Homo sapiens: one gene and its partner. The protein of the gene in region 1 purifies or fractionates together with the protein of each later gene. This does not show direct contact. Each region holds a gene or a part of one and is shown in the gene's direction. Other genes may lie near its edges.

The links.
Region 2: the proteins of ERCC6L (region 1) and MIDN purify together in Homo sapiens (affinity purification with mass spectrometry; 2 studies listed by BioGRID and IntAct, with this or other methods). This does not show direct contact.

What each region holds. Positions count from the first base shown.
Region 1 is NC_000023.11:72,227,649-72,237,830, reverse strand, and holds part of ERCC6L (DNA excision repair protein ERCC-6-like), read left to right. Parts: intron 1-10,182. UniProt on the Homo sapiens protein: DNA helicase that acts as a tension sensor that associates with catenated DNA which is stretched under tension until it is resolved during anaphase. Functions as ATP-dependent DNA translocase. Can promote Holliday junction branch migration (in vitro).
Region 2 is NC_000019.10:1,250,643-1,260,294, forward strand, and holds the end of MIDN (midnolin), read left to right. Parts: intron 1-919; coding exon 920-1,007; intron 1,008-1,196; coding exon 1,197-1,259; intron 1,260-3,311; coding exon 3,312-3,440; intron 3,441-3,524; coding exon 3,525-3,836; intron 3,837-4,259; coding exon 4,260-4,419; intron 4,420-4,779; coding exon 4,780-5,052; intron 5,053-6,352; coding exon 6,353-6,630; 3' UTR 6,631-8,501; downstream 8,502-9,652. UniProt on the Homo sapiens protein: Facilitates the ubiquitin-independent proteasomal degradation of stimulus-induced transcription factors such as FOSB, EGR1, NR4A1, and IRF4 to the proteasome for degradation. Promotes also the degradation of other substrates such as CBX4.

The sequences.
Region 1 (10,182 bases):
GTGGGTGCCACCATGTCCAGCCAATTTATTATTTTACTATTGTTGTTTTATATATATTTTTAGAGACAGGGTCTGGCTCTGTCACCCAGGCTGGAGTGCAGTGGCGCGATCTCTAACTCAGCTCACTGCAACTTCCATCCCCCGGGGCTCATGCGATCCTCCCACCTGTTTCCGGAGTAGCTGGGACCACAGGCGCACACCACCACACCCAGCTATTTTTTTTTTTTCTTTTTTTGATACAGTCTCGCTCTGTCACCCAGGCTGGAGTGCAGTGGCGCGGTCTGGGCTCACAGCAAGCTCCGCCTTCCGGGTTCACGCCATTCTCCTGCCTCAGCCTCCCGAGTAGCTGGGACTACAGGCGCCCGCTAACACACCCGGCTAATTTTTTGTATTTTTGGTAGAGACGGGGTTTCACCGTGTTAGCCGGGATGGTCTCAATCTCCTGACCTCGTGATCCGCCCGCCTCGGCCTCCCAAAGTATTTTTTTTGTGTTTTTAGTAGAGACAGGGTCTCGCCATGTTGCCCAGGCTGGTCTCAAACTCCTGAGTTCAAGCAATCCTCCTGCCTCGGCCTCCCAAAGTGTTGAGATTACAGACGTGGGCCACCATGCCAGGCCTTTCATTTAGATTTTTCCAATTGTTTGCCATTATACTTTTGTTGTAATAGGCAGCCTTTGTGTGAATTTTTGTGCACTTCGTAACTGAGTGTACACTTTGGAATTCCGATTGCTGGGTCTTAGGGAATGTGTATTTAAAATTGCCATTCAAGAAAACCATGCCAGATTTTAATAAAGTCAATAGTGTGAGTAAGCATTTATTTATATTCTCTCAGGCTGGTGTGTGATGAGCTATATGAGTCAATTCAAAAGTTAAGATACATAGTTTTACTTTTGAAGCTAAGACTTGTAGTATTTTCTTCTACAGATACACTTACATGAGTGAGCAAAGATGTGTGTGCGTGTGTATACAGTAAGTCCTCACTTAACATTGTCCATAGGTTCTTGGAAACTGACTTTAAGTGAAATGACGTAGCAAAACCAATTTTTTTCTCATCAGTGTTGCAGCAAAATGATATTGAATGAACCAGTGTCATTCAAGGGCCTGCTGTGTGTCATTTTGCTTAAAGTTGCAGTTGCCAAGAACCTACTGACCACGTTAACTGAGGACTTACTGTACATATAAACATATACCAGAGGTGTGTGCCATGAAGCCCGGCTAATTTTTAAAAGATTTTTGTAGGCTGGGTGCAGTGGCTCATGCCTGTAATCCCAGCACTTTGGGAGGGCGAGGCAGGTGCATCACGAGGTCAGGAGTTCAAGACCAGTCTGGACAACATGGTGAAGCCCCGTCTCTACTAAAAATACAAAAATTAGTCAGATATGGTGGCGGGCACCTGTAATCCCAGCTACTTGGGAGGCTGAGGCAGAATTGCTTCAACCCAGGAGGCGGAGGTTGCAGCGAGCTGAGATGGCGCCACTGCACTCCAGCCTGGGCAACAGAGCAAGACTCCGTCTCAGAAAAAAAAGAAAAAAAAGATTTTTGTAGAGATGAAGTCTCACTGTGTTGCCCAGGCTGGTCTTGAACTCCTAGACTCAAGTGATCCTCCCAACTCAGGCTGCCAAAGCACTGGGATTACAGGTGTGAGCCACCATGCCCAGCAGAATCAGACTTTTTATTACACTTACATTATTACACCACCGTTCAAGCATTCTACTCTCCATCTTCTACCTTACTCCCTCTAGAATACCAATTCCAACAAATGTTTGATATTGTTGGGACCTATAGTTCATTGATTCCATCTTTTCACTGTTGCACACCCCTCAGGTTCTCACTTCTCTCCTTACATAGTTTGAAGTTCAGAGTCAATAATTGTGGAGGCTTCCTTGTATACAACTTTAACTTATTTTTTTTCTCTTTCACACTTAATTATACTGGCTTGGCAAGACCATAGCCTTCGTATGGTAAGCAGAGTAATGGCCTCCCGAGGATATCCACATACTAATTTCTGAACCCTGTGAATATGTTACCCTCATATGGTAGAGAGGAATTAAGGTCACTAACCAGCTGACCCTAAAATAGGGAAATTGGAATATCTGGGTGAGCCCAGTGTAATCACAGGGTGCTTAAAAGTGGAAGAGGGGCTGGGTGTGGTGGCTCACGCCTGTAATCCCAGCACTTGGGGAGGCCAAGGTGGGTGGATCACCTGAGGTCAGGAGTTCGAGACCAGCCTGGCCAACGTGATGAAACCGTTTCTACAAAAATAGAAAAATAAGCTGGACGTGGTGGTACACGCCTGTAATCCCAGCTACCCAGGAGGCTGAGGCAGGAGAATTGCTTGAACCCAGGAGGTGGAGGTTGCAGTGAGCTGAGATCGCACCGTTGCACTCCAGCCTAGGCTACAAAAGTGAAACTCCATCTCCAAAAAAAAAAAAAAAAAAAAAAGTGGAAGAGGGAGGCAGAAGAGGAGGTCATAGTGACTCAGTGTGAGAAGGATTCAACCTATCCTACCTGGCTCGGTAGATGGGGGAAGGGGCTATGAACCAAGGAATGTGTATGGCCTCTGGAAGCTGGAAAAGCAAGAAGCACATTCTCCCCCTAGAGCCTCCAGAAAGGAACACAGCCTTGCTGCAACCTTAATTTTAGCCCAGTGAGACCTGTGTCAGACTTCTAACCTATATAACCTGCAAGATATAACCTGTAAGATAAAAGATAATACTTTGTGTTGTTTTAACATTTGTGATGATTTGTAACGGCAGCAATAGGAAACTAATACATTTTGCTAAATCCAACTCTGGCCCTCTCAGATGAACATGGTTGAAGAAACAATCATGTGACTGGTCTTACTTGAAATCCATCAATATCGATGTCAAGCAGGCCCTTCATGCTGCCTGGCAATCATAGTACATTTCTCTAATGTATTCACTCATCCATTGTACTAGATGCCTGTTTCATGCCTTCTTGCTTTTCAGACCCTCAACATCTCACCCTCATCTCTCTTGCTTCCAATTTCACTGGGTTGATAGAAGCAATCAGAAGACAGTTTCCAGAAGCTTCTTCCATATCAACCTACTTCCCAGCATTATTCCCTCTGTGTTCTTTGCCTTCTGTCCTGTTAGTATGGATGAACTCTCCATGCTTCTAGCTAAGGCACAACCCCTCCATTTGTGCAAAAGATCTCATCCCTTGTCACTCACTGGTATAAGGACTTCAGCCCACCAATTCTTTCATTGTTAAAAAAAAAAATCCTCTCTTGATCCTATTTTCATTTCCAGTTATTGCTCCATTTCTTCTCTTTCCTTTACAGCAAAATTCCAGGTGTCATATCATTGTCTACACTTGTCATTTCCTATTTCTTTTCTCCTAACTTCTGTTGAACTCGTCCCAATCAGGTTTTCACCCCATCACTTTACACAAACTGCTTTTATCAAAGTCACCAATGACATTCATATAACTAAATCCAACAGTCAATTCTCAATCTTCATCTACCTCGACCAGTAGTACTTGACGAAGTTAATCACTTCTCCATGAAACACATGATTCATTAGTCTTCCAAGGAGCCCTTGCTCTCCGGATTTTCTTCTTACTTCACTGACTGCTGCTTCAGATTCTGTTGATATTCCTCCTCATATCTTCTAAGATAATTTAAATCCCCAGATATGACATTTCACGCTGAAATACTTAAGTATATATTCCTTAAAAAGAACATATTCTTTTTTTTTTTTGAGACGGAGTCTTGCTCTGTTGCCCAGGCTGGAGTGCAGTGGCGCAATCTCAGCTCACTGCAACCTCTGCCTCCCAGGTTCAAGTGATTCTCTGCCTCAGCCTCCCAAGTAGCTGGGATTACAGGCACCTGCTACCACGCCAGGCTAATTATTGTATTTTTAGTATGGGGTTTCACCATGTTGGCCAGGCTGGCCTCAAACTCCTGGCCTCAGGTGATTCACCTGCCTCAGCCTCCCAAAGTGCTGGGATTACAGGCATGAGCCCCCTTGCCCGGTCAAAAAAAAAACCATATTCTTACAAAACCACCATGCCATATCACACCTAACAAAATAAATGAATTCATTGATATTATCTAATACATAGTCCATATTCAAATTTTTTTTTTTTGAGACGGAGTCTTGCAGTGTCATCCGGGCTGGAGTGTGGTGGCGCAATCTCGGCTCACTGTAAACTTCGCCTCCTGGGTTCAAGTGATTCTCCTGCCTCAGCCTCCCGAGTAGCTGGGATTACAGGCACCCACCACCATGCCCAGCTAATTTTTTGTATTTTTAGTAGAGACAGGGTTTCACCATGTTGGCCAGGCTGGTCCTGAACTCCTGACCAGTGATTCGCCTGCCTCGGCCTCCCAAAGTGCTGTGATTACAGGCGTGAGCTACCATGCCCAGCCTCAAATTTTTGAATGGTTTATCAGGATCCAAAGAAGGTCTACAACTTCATTTGGGTTTTATGTTTCTTGAACTTCTAATCTAGAACAGTTCTCCCCTCCCCTCCACTTTTATTTCTATGACAATGATTTGAATTAGTGTGATGTCTTCCTTGTAGTGTCATTAGTTTGTTCTGTCTCCTATAATTTAAACTAAAGGCTTGATAAGATTAAGCTTCAATATTTTTGGCATGAATACTTTATAGGGAAGGCTGTGTAGCTATATTGTGTCATATCAGGAAGTATATAACATCTGACTTTCCTACTTTCAATAATGCTATTGAAAGGTTGATCAATGGGTTCAGTGATTACAATCTGATTCCTCCTTTGCAAAGTTGCATTTCCCCCTTATGATGAGGAAGTAATACGTTCAGGATAGCTTAGTATTCTGTGAATATCCAGTTCCCCACCAACCCATCAGGCTTTCAACCATTGATAATTATTGCTCAAATCAGTTTTTTTTTTTAAAGAGATGGGGTCTCCCTATGTTGCCCAGGCTGGTCTTGAACTCCTAGTCTCAAGCGATCCACCTGCCTCAGCCTCCCAAAGTGTCAAATCAGTTATTAGAGATTACAAAGTGGTGATTTTCTTTTCTGAGACGGAGTTTCGCTCTTGTTGCCCAAGCTGGAGTACAATGACGCGATCTCAGCTCACTGCAACCTCCACCTCCCGGGTTCAAGTGATTCTCCTGCCTCAGCCTCCTGAGTAGCTGGGATTACAGGTGGGTGCCACCACACCCGGCTAATTTTTTGTGTTTTTAGTAGAAACGGGGTTTCGTCATGTTAGCCAGGCTGGTCTCCAACTCTTGACTTCAGGTGATCTGCCTGCCTTGGCCTCCCCAAGTGCTGGGATTACAGGCGTGAGCCACCAAGCCTGGCTGCAAAGTCGTGATTTTCTAGTTTCACCGTTCTTTGTGTATTCATTAGCTGGAATTCTATAGATGATCTTAATGTTGGAATGCCATGTCTTTTTTTTTTTTTTTTTTTTTTGAGGCAGGTCTGGCTATGTTGCCCAGGCTGGTCTCGAACTCCTGAGCCCAAGTGATCCACCTGCCTTGGCCTCCCAAAGTGCTGGGATTACAGGCATGAGCCACCATGCCCAGCTGTCTTTTTTTTTTTTTTTTTTTTTTTTTAATACTCCTTCCTTGGGTGATCTTATCCAGGTTCTTGGCTTTAAATCTCATCTCTGTGCTGAGAACTTTCACATTTTTTTAGTAAACCTTTTACTTTGGCATTATTTTATTTTATTTTTAAAGTTTTTGGGTTTATTTATAATTGACACATAATTATACATGTTTATGGAGTACAGTTTTATTTCTGTTTTTTTAGAGACAGGGTCTCGCTCTGTCATCTAGGCTGGAGTGCAGTGGCGCCATCATAGTTCACCGTAATCTTGAACTCCTGGACTCAAACGATCTTTCTGCCTTGGCTTCCAAATGTGCTGGGATTACAGGCATGAGCCATTGCACTTGACCAGTTTTATTTTTGACCAACAATAATTGTATATATTTGTGGGGTACAATGTGATGTTTCAATGCACGTATACATTGTGAAATGATCAAATCAGGCTAATTAACATATCCATCACCTCAAATACTTATCATTTCTTTGTGGTGAAAAAATTTAAAATCCATTCTTCAGCCTGACCAACATGGCGAAACTCTGTCTCTACTAAAAATACAAAAATTAGTTGTGTGTGGTGGTACGCATCTGTAGTCCCAGCTACTCGGGAGGCAGAGGCAGGAGAATCCTATGAACCCAGGAGGCGGAGGCTGCAGTAACCTGAGATCATGGCACACTGCACTCCAGGCTGGGTGACAGAGGGAGACCCTGTCTCAAAAAAAAAAAAGTTCATTCTTTTAGCTATTTTGAAATATATGATTCATTATTATTAATAATAGTCACCATGATGTGCAGTAGATCACTAGAACCTATTCCTCCTGTTTAACTGAAACTTTGTACCATTGACTAACATTTCTCCTTTCCCCATCTACCCCTATCCCCCCAGCCTCTGGTAACTACTGTTCTACTCTCTACTTCTTTTCTAGATTCCATGTATAAGCGAGATCATGGAGTATTTGTCTCTCCGTGCCTGGTTTATTTCACCTAGCAAAATGTCTTTTAGGTTCATTCATGTTGCAAATCAGAATTTCCTGCCTTTTAACGGCTGAATAATTTTTCATTGTGTGTATATACCACATTTTAAAAATCCATTCATCCTGTTGATGGTGACTTTGGTTGTTTCCTTTTCTTGGCTACTATGAATAATGCTGCAGTGAACACGGGAGTGCAGGTATCTCTTCAATATACTGATTTCAGGTCCTTTGGAAGTACCCAGAAGTGAGATTGCTGGATCATATGGTAACTTTATTTTTAGTTTTTTGAGGAACCTCTGCACTGTTTTCCAGAATGGCCATACTTATGTATGTATTTATTTATTTAGAGACAGGGTCTCCCTCTGTCACCCAGGCTGGAGTGCAGTGGCACGATCTCGGCTCACTGAAGCTTGGGGCTCCTGAGCTCAAGCAGTCCTCCCACCTCAGCCCCCCAAGTAGCTGGGATCACAGGTGCACACCACCATGCCTGGCTAATTTTTTGTATTTTTGGTAGAGATGGGGTTTTGCCATGTTGCCCAGGCTGGTTTTAAACTCCTGAGCTCAAGCGATCTGCCCACCCTAGGCCTCCCAAAGTGCTGGGATTACAGGCGTGAAGCACCATGCCCAGCCCAGAATGTCCATGCTAATTTATAATAGTACCAACAGTATACAAGCGTTCCCTTTTCTCCACATCCTTGCCAACACTTGTAAGAGTTAAAGAAAGAGGAAAGAAACAAAATGCAGCTCAACAGTTAAAGGCAGGTTTACTTCAGATAAAACCTGAGAGGGGCTTCTGGCCGATTTTTGGTCAGGAGTGCTTTCTCTTACAGACTAAGAGTATATATTGGTTTTAGGGTGAGGGGGCTTATCACAAGCTTGGAATGTTTCTGTGTGAGGGAGAGGTTTTATGGCAGGGTTGGAATGTCTCTGGGAGGAGAGGAGGTTATCTTGGGGCAGACATCTTTCCAGCCAAGGCGGGTTATCTCAAGGCTGCCATCTTCCTGGCCAGAGGGGGGTTATCTTGGGGCTAGCATGTCTCTGGTTGGGGAGGAGTTTGGAATTGTGGGATATGATGAGGTTGCTCTTCAAATAGCCTGATCAATCCTTTATTCTTAATTTTTTTTTTTATTTTTTTTGAGTCGGAGTCTTGCTCTGTCTCCCAGAGCAGAGTGCAGTGGCGCAATCTCGGCTCACTGCAAGCTCCTCCTCCCGGGTTCATGCCATTCTCCTGCCTCAGCCTCCCAAGTAGCTGGGACTACAGGCGCCCACCACCACGCCCAGCCAATTTTTTGTATTTTTAGTAGAGATGGGATTTCACCGTGTTAGCCAGGATGGTCTCTATCTCCTGCCTCGGCCTCCCAAAGTGCTGGGATTACAGGCGTGAGCCACCGTGCCTGGCCAAGGTCTTGGACTTTTATAAGGCTTGGGGCTGTGTCTTCTAATGAGTTCTGTAGTTCTGTTGAAACAGCCTTAAAGTATGTTATGGAAGTGGCTAATCTGCTTGCTCTCAATCCAAGTCCAGAGGTTATACCCAAGGTGGCTATTAAGGGAATGACATGGATGGCCCTTCCTTTTCTAACATATTGGATGGGTGGGATGGGCAAAGGTCGATCAGGAGGAACAAGTCCAATGGAGGGAGATAGATAAACTAGGGTACAGGTTCCAGTCCAGTTGGTAGGGAGACAAAGGTATGTGTTGGTGCCACACAAAAAGAACAGGCCTTTGTCGTGTATACAGGCAGAGATATGGAAAGACAGTAGGTGAACTAAACATGGGGTGTTTTTTCTTTCCTGTGGTTCATTACTCCAAATGGACAAGGAGGAGGCCAGGGAGACACCTACTATAGTAGAAATATAGGAAGAGTTACTTTTTACACATTTAATGCAATAGGATGTTGCACCATTGATATTGAGCCATGGAAAAAGGTGGGCACCAGGCACAGCACAAGTTAGGCCATAGGCATTGGCTGAGAGAGAGGCTGTCAAACGAGCCAGTTGCGGAAATGCTCCATTTGCTTCAGGTGATACTGGGTAGTTAACTCGGTTAGTTTGATGGTCAGAGGGGTGTTTAATAATGATAGTACGGTTGCGTTGGTTAGGTGTTAAGGATCCTACAGGGAGATTTCCTTCAGAGGCTGAAAAGCAAAGTGAAGCTTGTTGTAAAAGGGGGGTGTGTTTAGTTATAGGCCCTTTAATGGGAGAGTCTTGAGGCTTGAGGCGTTGCAGGGAGTTGTAATAGGTTTGAAATAATTTGTTAGCCTGATTGGCCCTGGAAGTAGGATAATTGCCGACCAGGGTGTCAGCTCTTTCAAGAAAGGAAGCTCCCTTTTGGAGTGTATAAATTAGGGTTATGCTCCCTGCTAAAAGGTCATGAAGGGATGCAGGAAGGGCTGTGTAGGCTGAGGAAGACAGCGATAAGCACATCCAGCATTCAGGAGCAAAGGAAGAGTTAGTTCGCAGCAAGAGGGATTGTGTAAGGTTTATAGTTCGAGCTTGAGAGCAGTGAGAAGTGGTTGTATTGGTGAGGTTGATGTACTTAGGGTATTTGTATTGAAAAAAAAACAAGCAAAAAGCGAAAAAGGTTATTTGGGTAAGAGTAAAGTCCTGGAAAGTTCCTTGAAGCCATAGGTCCCATAGAACAGTAAAGAGCTGATCAGGATATATAATGGGAGTTTCGTAAGGGTACCGCTGAAGGACTGTAACAAGGTTGATTAGGAAGCAGTGAAAGTTTGGGAGAGAAAGAGACATAAGTGGTTTAGGTGAATTTCTCTTCCTTTTCTTCCAAGATTCGGGTGAGGCAAAGGGAAGTGGGTCCTGTGGAGACACAAGAGAAGGCTGAAGGGGTTTTGGATTTGGTTGTTTGGGTATGTGGCAAAGGGAAGTCTGTTTTCTTGAGAGAAGTATAATGAAACCAGTTGGGGAGTCCCTGGAGTTTTGCTGCTGTGGGTATGGTAAGAATGATTTGGTAAGGTCCCTTTGTTAGAAATGTTTGTTCCCTGGTGCCATAAAGAAATAGCACTTGAACATAAAATTAATTTCCTCAGCAAGGCCATTTTTACTTTCTGCAGAAAGAGCACCCTCGCCAGCAGTTTTGCCATGAGAGTACACCGAACAAAGGAGACAGGGTCATTTATAAACTGACGCTTCCACCCTACTGCTGTGTCCAGTTTCCATTGGCTGGAACGGGACCTCACATTCTGTATTTGTCCCGATTGGCTAGCAACTTAGAACTTTTTAAAAGAGGCAAAGACAGAGGAGAACAAAGGAAGGAGGAAGTAACTTGTGGAATGCTGAGAAAGGTAAAAACACCTTCAAATAAGGAAGAGGAACAGGCTATGACCTAATGTTTGCTTGGACTAGTATAAGCATGCCAGGGCAAATATTTAGGCTAAATTGTAGGAGCTAAGAACATAAAGTACATTGATTTCTTTATTACGGCTGGCCGATATTTAAGGATGTTAGCACAGGTCTTTGAATAAATTTTGCTTCTAAGAGAAGTTACTATTTATTCCTAATTAGGTGGGGAGGAAAGTCTTTGAAGAGGAACCTCTACTTTACTTTTTACACCTTCCATTTAGGTGTGAGGGGGGAATTGGGGGTAGGACTGGGATCTTTTATGAGAACCCAGTCTTCTGGCTATAGGAAGGGATTAGAGGAGTCAGT
Region 2 (9,652 bases), on another chromosome or scaffold:
CGCCGCGCGCTCTCGGGCGCCCTCTGCTCGGCCTCGCCTGCCTCGGCCCCCTCCCCCGCCCGGGGTCGCCGCACAAAGGCGGCTGCGAGGGCGTCCCGGGCCGGGCTTCGGCGGCCCCCCTTGGGGGCGGGCAGGAATCCCAGGGCGTTGCGGGGGTCCCGGCTGCGGGTGTGGGGGCCGCCACCGCCCCCTCCCGCCTGCGTCCGCGCCGGCTTCCGCATCTGCTCGGCGGCCTCCTCTGCGTCTGGCTGTCTCCCCCCACTTGCGTCTCTCTCCCCCCCTTTGTTCTCGCCTCCGAGCGCTCCCCGCAGCCTCCCCTCCCCCCTGGTATTTAAATCGCCTGCAGGCCCGGAGCCCTCCCCCCGCGGGCCTCCGGGGACACGCAGTGTCCATCCCAGTGGAGGGGCCCATCGGGGGAGGGGCGGAGGGGGAGGGTCTCCTTTGTCTGCGCGGCGGCGGCCGCCTGCGCCGGGGAGGGAGGAGGAGGGGGAGCCCGGCCCGGCGCAACCCCCAGGGCCTCTCCTCGGGCCGAAACCCGTGGTTCCTACAAAGAGGAGCCAGGACTAGAATTAGGGAATTGGGGGCAGGGGCTGCCCTGGGGTCGTGGGGGAAGGTGGCATAGAGCACACTGGGGCCCAGAGGAGGAGAAAGTGCCTGGTTGGGGTGCAGAGGGGGTGCCAGAGTCCAGGGCGGGGGTTCCACTGGAGGGAAGGGGTCCGAATCGCCAGGATGGGGCTCCCAGCACCAGACGGAGACCTCTCTGCACGCGCTTAGGGCCCTGGATCTGGAAGCCGGGAAGGGGTGGGGGTGGGAACTTATCCGTCTCTCCCCACACAAGCACAGCCCTCCCCCGCGGCCTCTGCTTCCGCGTCCCTGTGTCGTCTCCGCGGAGTCTCATGCTCTTCCTTCCTCCCCCCAGCCGGCTCAGTTCGGGGAAGCTGCAGGAGTTCGGCGTGGGTGATGGCAGCAAGCTGACCTTGGTACCCACCGTGGAAGCGGGCCTCATGGTAAATGGCCATGGGGCTGCGTGCCCCCAGAGGCCCCCGCACACAGGCAGTAGCCCCTCCCTCGGTACCTGTCCGCACACACACTACCTGGGGCCCCCACCCCGCCAGCCAGCAGGGCCCTCTCCACCCCCTATTCCAGCCCAGGATTCCGACCCCACACTCAGGCCCCTCTCCTCCCTCTCTTTGTAGTCTCAGGCCTCAAGGCCGGAACAGTCCGTGATGCAAGCTCTCGAGAGTCTCACGGAGACGCAGGTAAGACCTCGCCAGCCCCTTCCTAACAGGGCAGCCCTGGGAGCAGGGTGCCTTGGCCACCGACGGGGCCTGGGGGTTGTCTGTGCTCCCAGGAGGCTGGGGGAGGGGAGGGGACGCGCCACCCCGCCTGGGTGCCAGCCTGGCCTGGCCTCCCCACCTCCTCTCCCCCAAGATTCACCACCTGACCCGGAGGGCTTTCTCTCCCACGGTGGCTGCCCTGGGGGAAGGGGGCCTGGCTTTCACAAGACTGCCTGCAGGATGACCTTGGCCTATGGGGCCTCATCCCCGCTCACACCCTGGCCTGCATCCCCAGCCCCCTCCGCCCCCACCGAGGAGCCCCCCTCCAGCCGCTGTGGCTTCCCCAGAGCGAGTTTCTCCTTTTTTACATTTCTGCTGAGGGCTGGGGGTGGCGGCTTGGGTGACACTCCTTCCGCCTTCCGTGACCCCCATCGTGAGAGGGTGGGGATCTCGTCACCCTCCCCTCCTCTCTCTGGCCTTTGTTCTCTACCCCGAAAGGGGAGGGGGCGGGGGTGCCCAGCCCTGGGGCCAGTGAGGCCTAGACAGGATGTTAGGAAAATATTTAGTAAGCGGCCAGGAGGGAGGCTGGGGCTGGCCCTCACCCGGTTCCCGGTTTTGCTGCGGACTTTTTTTTTTTTTTCTCCTTCTTTCCTCATTTTCTTGGCTGCGGCCAAGCCTTCCTCAGACAAGGGCCCTGGCCACCTCCCAGGAGGGTGACACAGGCCTCAGCAATCCGCCCGCTGCCAGGGTGGGGGACGCAGGCTGCCACCCGCCCCAGCAAGGGGTGGCCGGCTTCCCGGGCCTCCCTGGCCCCGAGGCCCGCACCCCCTTCCGCTTTCCCAGCGGCATGTAGAGTCCTGCCCTTTCCCTACATCGCGGGGGCAGGGCGGGGGCCGGGAGCTGGGTGGTCTGCCATGGGGGTGGCCACAGCAGCAGCAGCAGTGGCGTGGGGGCAGAGCCGGGGTCCCGAGCCAGGGCGGGGGCTGCAGGTGATTTCCTGGGGCGAGTGTGAGCAGAGCTCCCCGCCGCTGGGGGGCTGCGGTTGGCAGGGGGCCCAGGGCGTGTTGGCTTCACACCCTCCTCCCTGGGCGCCTGCGTCAGGAAGGAGCTGGGTTGGGGGGGGCTGGAGGGGGTGCTGGGCGGAGACACTGGGCTCCCCAGGGTTGCTTCCCTGCCTGGCACCGAGTCATGCCCGCCCATTAGCCTTCCCCAGGGAGGAAGTTGCAGGGCGGGTGGTGGTGGGGACTCCAGCTGCTCTCGGGAAGCCACCCCGGGCCCTTCCTGCAAAGGCTGTCTTGGGGCAGGGGGGTAGGGGGCCGGGCAGGCTGGGCCGCAGGGTGGGGGCTTCACCCTGCCCTCCTCCCTGCCTCCCTCCCCATGGGCCCCAAGCAGAGAAGGTTACGCCAGCTACTGCCAGTGGAGAGGAGAGCCGGGAGGGAGAGCTGGGAGGCGGTCGGTTCTGAGTCATCCCAGCCTATGTCACTTCTCAGAAACCTCCGCCACCCCCCCCCCCATCCCGGCCACTGGGGAGAGCAGGGCTCTGGCCCATACCCAGAGCAGGGGGCTTGGCGAGGACAGGGTGAGATTCAACCCACACCCACCCTGAACGGGGGCAGATTGAGGGTTTCTGTGCTTGGAGCAGGTTGTGCCCTCCGGGACTCCAGCCCCAGGGCGGTCAGGGCCCCTTCCTGCAGCCTTGCCACAGCCCCCTAGGCCTCCGCCCCGCCCAGGACAGATAAATATTTATCTTGAGAAAGCAAAGGTTAGGACAGAAGAATTCGTGCAGGAATTCCACCCACTTGCTGGCCCTGGTGACTTAGCTGGGAGGGGGCCTGAGGTGGAGCCCCTCCCGTATCCACAGGCAGAGAGGATCTAGGGGCCCATGAGGGTGGGGGAAAGGCAAAGTGAAGGTTGTTTGAGGTCAGTGACTGCCAGCTGGGCCCCGCCCCCTCTGGCCTCAGTTTCCCCTTGCAAGACCGACCTAGTTGGCCAGGGAGGGGCAGGCCCCCGTCTGACCCGCCTCTGTCCCCACAGCCCCCAGCGGCGCCCGGGCCGGGCCGGGCTGGCGGAGGAGGCTTCCGGAAATACAGATTCATTTTATTTAAGCGTCCGTGGCACCGACAGGGACCCCAGAGCCCAGAGAGGGGCGGCGAGAGGCCCCAGGTCACAGCGCGGGGGGACTGGGCCGGGCTGGGCTGGGGGCGCCGCAAGCTGGGGCTCCCAGCTGACGGACCGCTCTCCTTGCAGGTCAGTGACTTCCTGTCGGGCCGTTCGCCACTGACACTGGCCTTGCGTGTGGGCGACCACATGATGTTCGTGCAGCTGCAGCTCGCGGCCCAGCACGCTCCACTGCAACACCGCCATGTGCTGGCCGCTGCGGCCGCCGCCGCTGCTGCGCGGGGGGACCCCAGCATAGCCTCCCCCGTGTCCTCGCCCTGCCGGCCGGTGTCCAGTGCCGCCCGAGTCCCCCCGGTGCCCACCAGCCCGTCCCCTGCATCTCCCTCGCCCATCACAGCCGGCTCCTTCCGGTCCCACGCAGCCTCCACCACCTGCCCGGAGGTGAGCCTGGGGAAGGGAAGGGTGACCCTTGGTTGGAATCCAAAGGGTGGGCCGTCCTGGGGAGGTCTTGGGGAGGACAAGGACTCTTAGTCCCAGGTGAGTCCCTTGTATTAAGGGCTATCCTGTGACCTCGGGCTGGTGGGTGATCCCCCAGCCTAGATTGGTGGGGTATTTCTAGATCCTGAGTTGACGGTCATCGCCTGACATGACCTGGACCAGTAGATGATCTCTTGATCTTTGACTCATGGGTCATCTCTGTGTCCTGGGTTGGTTGTGACCTCGTGACCTTGGGCTAGTTTATCTCTAAACCCTGTGTTGACAGGTCATCTCCTGACCTGGGCTGGTGGGTGATCTCTGGTCCCTGGGTTGCTGGTGATCCCCTGATCCTGGACCCCGTGCTCATGTGCCCCTTCCTCCCATCAGCAGATGGACTGCTCCCCCACGGCCAGCAGCAGTGCCAGTCCTGGTGCCAGCACCACGTCTACCCCAGGGGCCAGCCCTGCCCCCCGCTCCCGAAAACCCGGCGCCGTCATCGAGAGCTTTGTGAATCACGCCCCGGGGGTCTTCTCAGGGACCTTCTCTGGTAGGTGTCACAGCACATGTGTGAGCTCACGTGTGTCCCGTGACCCTGTGCATTTGGGGTCTACATCCACCCACAGGCGACTCCACATATTCTGGGCATACACAGGCTGTGTCCGTCTGCTCACTTCACATGTCCCCCAGGAATCCCCCACACACACGCCTGGCCCTGCCCGGGGGGCCGCGGGTCACCAGGCGCCTGCATACTGGGGACGTGTCCCGCTCCCGCCCCGTGGTCCCTCGTGCACATCAGCCCACATGTCCACGCCATTGCCTGAGCTCATGAGCTCACACCCGTGGACGCCCGTCCTGGACATGCGGGACTGTGCCCGTGCCGGGCACTCACGGCCACCTCTGCCCGCAGGCACGCTACACCCCAACTGCCAAGACAGCAGCGGGCGGCCGCGGCGTGACATCGGCACCATCCTGCAGATCCTGAACGACCTCCTGAGCGCCACCCGGCACTACCAGGGCATGCCCCCTTCGCTGGCCCAGCTCCGCTGCCACGCCCAGTGCTCCCCGGCCTCACCGGCCCCCGACCTGGCCCCCAGAACTACCTCCTGCGAGAAGCTCACGGCTGCCCCCTCAGCCTCCCTGCTGCAGGGCCAGAGCCAGATCCGCATGTGCAAGCCCCCGGGTGAGTGGCCACCCTCGGGGGTCCTACCTTCCCCGCCCGCCTGGGCTTCTCAAGGCCCCTCTGTGTGAGCTGGTGGGCTCAGGAGCAGCTGACCTGCCCAGGGGCTGGGGGGGATGGCAGCTGCCGTGGCCACTGCTCTGCTCCAGCCCGGAGAGAAGGCAGCATGTGTGTCAGGGCACAAAGTGTCCTTGTGTGCTCCCGGGGGGCCACAGGCCCACTTCCTCCTGCCCCACCCCCACCCGGGGCATCATCTCCAGATGGCATTTGGTGCCTCTGTGAATGGCCAAGTCAGGCCTGGCAGGCCGAGGCGGGGCCAGAGCCCACCCCTAAGCATTTCAGTGACTTGGAAAAGCAGCGAACACAACCCCCCTGCCAGCCTGGCCCCAGCTACTCCCAAACGGCGGGTTACTCCCTCCAGAGTCTCACCAGAAGATGGCTACTGTACTGCCCTTGGGCTCTGCACCCGTCGCGGGGGCTCCTCCCAGCTCAGTTTAAAAGTGGGAAACTGGCCGGGCGCGGTGGCTCACGCCTGTAATCCCAGCACTTTGGGAGGCCGACGCGGGCGGATCACGAGGTCAGGAGATCGAGACCATCTTGGCTAACATGGTGAAACTCCGTTTCCACTAAAAATACAAAAAATTAGCCAGGCGTGGTGGTGGGCGCCTGTAGTCCCAGCTACTCGGGAGGCTGAGACAGGAGAATGGCGTGAACCCAGAGGCGGAGCTTGCAGTGAGCCGAGATCGCGCCACTGCACTCCAGCCTGGGCGACAGAGCGAGACTCCGTCTCAAAAAAAAAAAAAAAAAACCAAGGTACAACCCCCAAGTATCTCCCCTCGGATCACAGAAGCGGCCAAGCCCCCTCCATGTAGGACTCCAGGAAGAATGAGGCAGGACAGTCCTGACCTCCCCAGCTCATGGCTGAGCTGGAGAATTAGAAGCCAGCTGCGTAGCTGGGACTCCAGGCAAACACCACCATGCCCAGCTAATTTTGTAATTTTTGTAGAGGAGGGGTCTCGCTCTGTGGCTCAGGCCTGTCTCGAACTCCTGAGGTTGCCCAGGCCTGTCTCGAACTCCTGAGCTCAAGCGATTCTCCTGCCTCGGCCTCCCAAAGTGCTGAGATTACAGGCGTGAACCACTGTGCCCGGCATGGTGGATGTCCTTGACTGTTTCCTTTGCTGACCTCCCTCCAGGGAGGGCAGGACTGTGTCTGACCTCAGGGGCATTTGCTGGGGTCTGGGGTGGTCCTCTGTGTTCAGCAGGTGGAGGCTTTGGGAGTCACAGGCCACTACCTCCTTTGCAGGGGACCGGCTTCGGCAGACAGAAAACCGCGCCACGCGCTGCAAGGTGGAACGGCTGCAGCTGCTTCTGCAGCAGAAACGGCTCCGTAGAAAGGCCCGGCGGGACGCGCGGGGTCCGTACCACTGGTCACCCAGCCGCAAGGCCGGCCGCAGCGACAGCAGTAGCAGCGGGGGCGGCGGCAGCCCCAGCGAGGCCTCCGGCTTGGGCCTCGACTTCGAGGACTCCGTGTGGAAGCCAGAAGTCAACCCTGACATCAAGTCAGAGTTCGTGGTGGCTTAGGATCTTCGGATCGGCCACCCTCGCCCCTCGCACCCCAGCCCAGGGCGGCGGGGACTCCGAGAGCCCCGGAGAGAACGTGGCCCAGCCCTGGAGGGCAGGCGGCCACTCCCCCAGCCAGAAGTCTTTTTTTCTTTTCTTCTTTTTTATTATTTTTTTCTTTTTTTAAAAAGTTCTGACCGTGGTTTCCTGGACTCTTCATGGGCTTTGCTTCCTACCTCCTTCACCCTTCACTCCTGCCCTCCTCTTCCTCCTCCTCCTCCTCCTCCGTCTGTCTCCTTTCACCTCTGCGCCAGGTCGGTCCTCCCTGCCAACCTTCCCCAGCTCCAATATGTAGCAGTCTCTCTGGATGGCGGAGAGTGAAGGAGACGGAGAAACGCGCCCCATCCCTTCCGCCGCCTCCTTTCCCCCCCGACCCTATTCAGGTTTTAAGTCAAAAATGTCGATATGTCATTATGCACTTTACAGATGAGGGGAGGGGCCGCAGTGCGCAGAACCCACCCCACCCCCCAGTGCAGACTTCGGGGTCTCCACCCCAGGCCAGCAGCGCCCACTGGGCTACAGCAAGCCAACAGGTCACAGAAGCCAACGAGGGGACTGTTTCTCTTCCACTCCTATCCTCTTTTCTTGATCTTTTTTTTGCATTTTCCTTCATTTCTTTAACAAGGAGAGCAAAGCTGTTTTAGCAGAGGCTGGGGCTGAGGTCCCCATGGGGTTTGGGTGCAGGGGCATGGCACCCTTTCCTGTCGGGAAGGGAGAGGGGAACTACCCCCCCAGCCTGCCCTCCGCCCCGCCCCAGCCGGCGGACTGTGCTGTTTCCTCCGCCCCCACTCCCGTGTTTTCTGACCTCCTGCCTGAGTTTGGGGTATTTATAGACTATTAATTTTCTGACTGAGCCAATAGTGGTTGGGGAACTCTTGAAAAAGGGGAGAGAATGGCTGGGTGCTGGGGAGTTCCCCCCTCCGAGCCCTCCTTCCCGGCCCAACCTGAGGGATGTGGATTTGGGACTGTCTGGGGGCCCCTCCTGCAGCGAGGATGGGAGGGGGTGCTGAGCTGTGAATCCCCTGGGCAGGGGGCGACAACTCCGTGTAGCATTAACCCCCGTGGCGGGGTCCGCTGCTGGTCTAATTTGGACCCCCTGCCTCTCAGTGCCCCTGCCCTAGGGGTGTCTGTCTCCAGAGGGGAGGGACAAATCCCCTACTGGGGCCATTTCAATGGGGTAGTTTTTGGATTTTTTTCCCCACTCACTTTTTATTTTTTAATGATAATGGAGATGTCTGGACCCTTCCTCACCCCACCTGTCGGTCTTGTCCTGGCTCTGCCTGTCCCCCACCGTTGTTCTCGTAGGTGAACCCCAGGTCCTCAACTCCCCCCCTTTATGTGTTGAAAGTTAATGGTTTCAGATGTGAACATCACGTGTTATAACTGTAGCGCTGTAAATTTTTTTGTGGGAGGGTGGGCAGGGAGGGGTCCCAGAGGGTAGAGCTCAAGGATTTTGGGTTTTGTTTTGTTTTCATTTTTCCAAAAAAAAAAGAAAAAAAAATAGAAAAAAAAGGAGTAAAAGGGGCGGGTTTGTTTTTTGAAGAACTGTCTTGGATACCTATTTAAATGTGTGTTCTGTTTTGTTTTTTAACGATTTTTAAATAACGTCTGTGCCTCCACTGGTTGAGGGTGGAACCTCCAGGCAGGAACCGGCTCGCCACCCTCTGCCCGGTAAGGGCTGCCCAAGAAAGCATTACCCGCCCTCGGGGGGTCGGGCTGTGGGGGTCCCGGCACCTGGCGTGAGTTTCATGTATGAAAACATAAAATTGAAAAAAAAAAAAAAACCTACACGAGCACCGTGATTTCAAGTAATAAACAGAAAATGAAACACACATTGACTCCCGCCTGCTCGCCTAGTGGGGGGATCTGGCCTTGGTTGGGAGGGTTCCTGGGGTGGGATGTCAGCTCAGGGAGTCAGAGGGACTGACCTGGGTCCCAAGGCCCCGAAGAGGGGGTGGGGCAGGGGTCAGGGCCCTGAGAATTTCCCACGCTCCTTCCCCGGCTGCCGGGTGGGCAGGAAGCAGCCAGGGTGGGAGGGAGGAGCCCAGCCACTTCCTGGTACCCAAGGCCGGAAGTCCCTTAGGGTGTGGGGCGAGGGCCTGCCTGCCTGCTTCGTGGCCTGGGCAGGACCCTGGCCCCCTCAGGACCTGCCAGTATGGGGGAGACGCGACCACCAGCTCTCCCCAGCCACAGGAGTCGGGGACTCCCACTCTGCCACACCCACCTGCTCCCCTTCCTGGAGTCTCACATCTGTGTGGCTTGCTGCAGGGAGATCACCAGGCCGACTGGGAGGACCTAGGACTCCGCAGGGTACCTTGGGCTGGCAGGTGATACAGGCCTGGCTTGACCCAGCCCTGGGGGGCCTCTCTGGCCACACCTCCTGACATTCCAGCCCTTCCCAGACCTGGCCTTCAGCTCCAAACCTCCCGGCCTTTGCCCCCTGTCTAGGAACACCCCTGGTCCGGCTGTCCCTTGCTGTCTGGGAACTTCCCCAGCCTGCGCCTTCCACCCCTGTCCACCCCGTCCCGCAGACCCCACCCTTCCCTCTCTCTGTCCCTAGCCTGGAGCTCCCCGTGAGCCTCACCAGGACTGAGTCCTCTCTGGGGTCCCACCTCCACCCATGTCCGGGCTGGGCAGAGATGAGGCAATAACACTATTTCATGTCTTTTTTTAAATTTTGTAACCTGTATTTCCTCAGGTAACAAGAGTTGCCTATGAGAAGTAATTGGGCTCCCATTTTATAGATGGGAGAACAGAGGCCCAAAGAGGAACATCACTTGGCCCAGAGGATTTGGGGTGTTTGTTCAATGATGTGACCTCCACCCCTTATCCCATCTCTAGGGGCCCCAGTACCGGGAGCCCCCAGGGGAAGGGGCACAGGTTCAGAGAGTGGCCTGGGAGCACCTTCCTGAGACCCCTCTGCCCCTCCCAACGCCCAGTCAACCCCAAATCATCGCACGCCCACGGCAGGAAGGCGGATGCC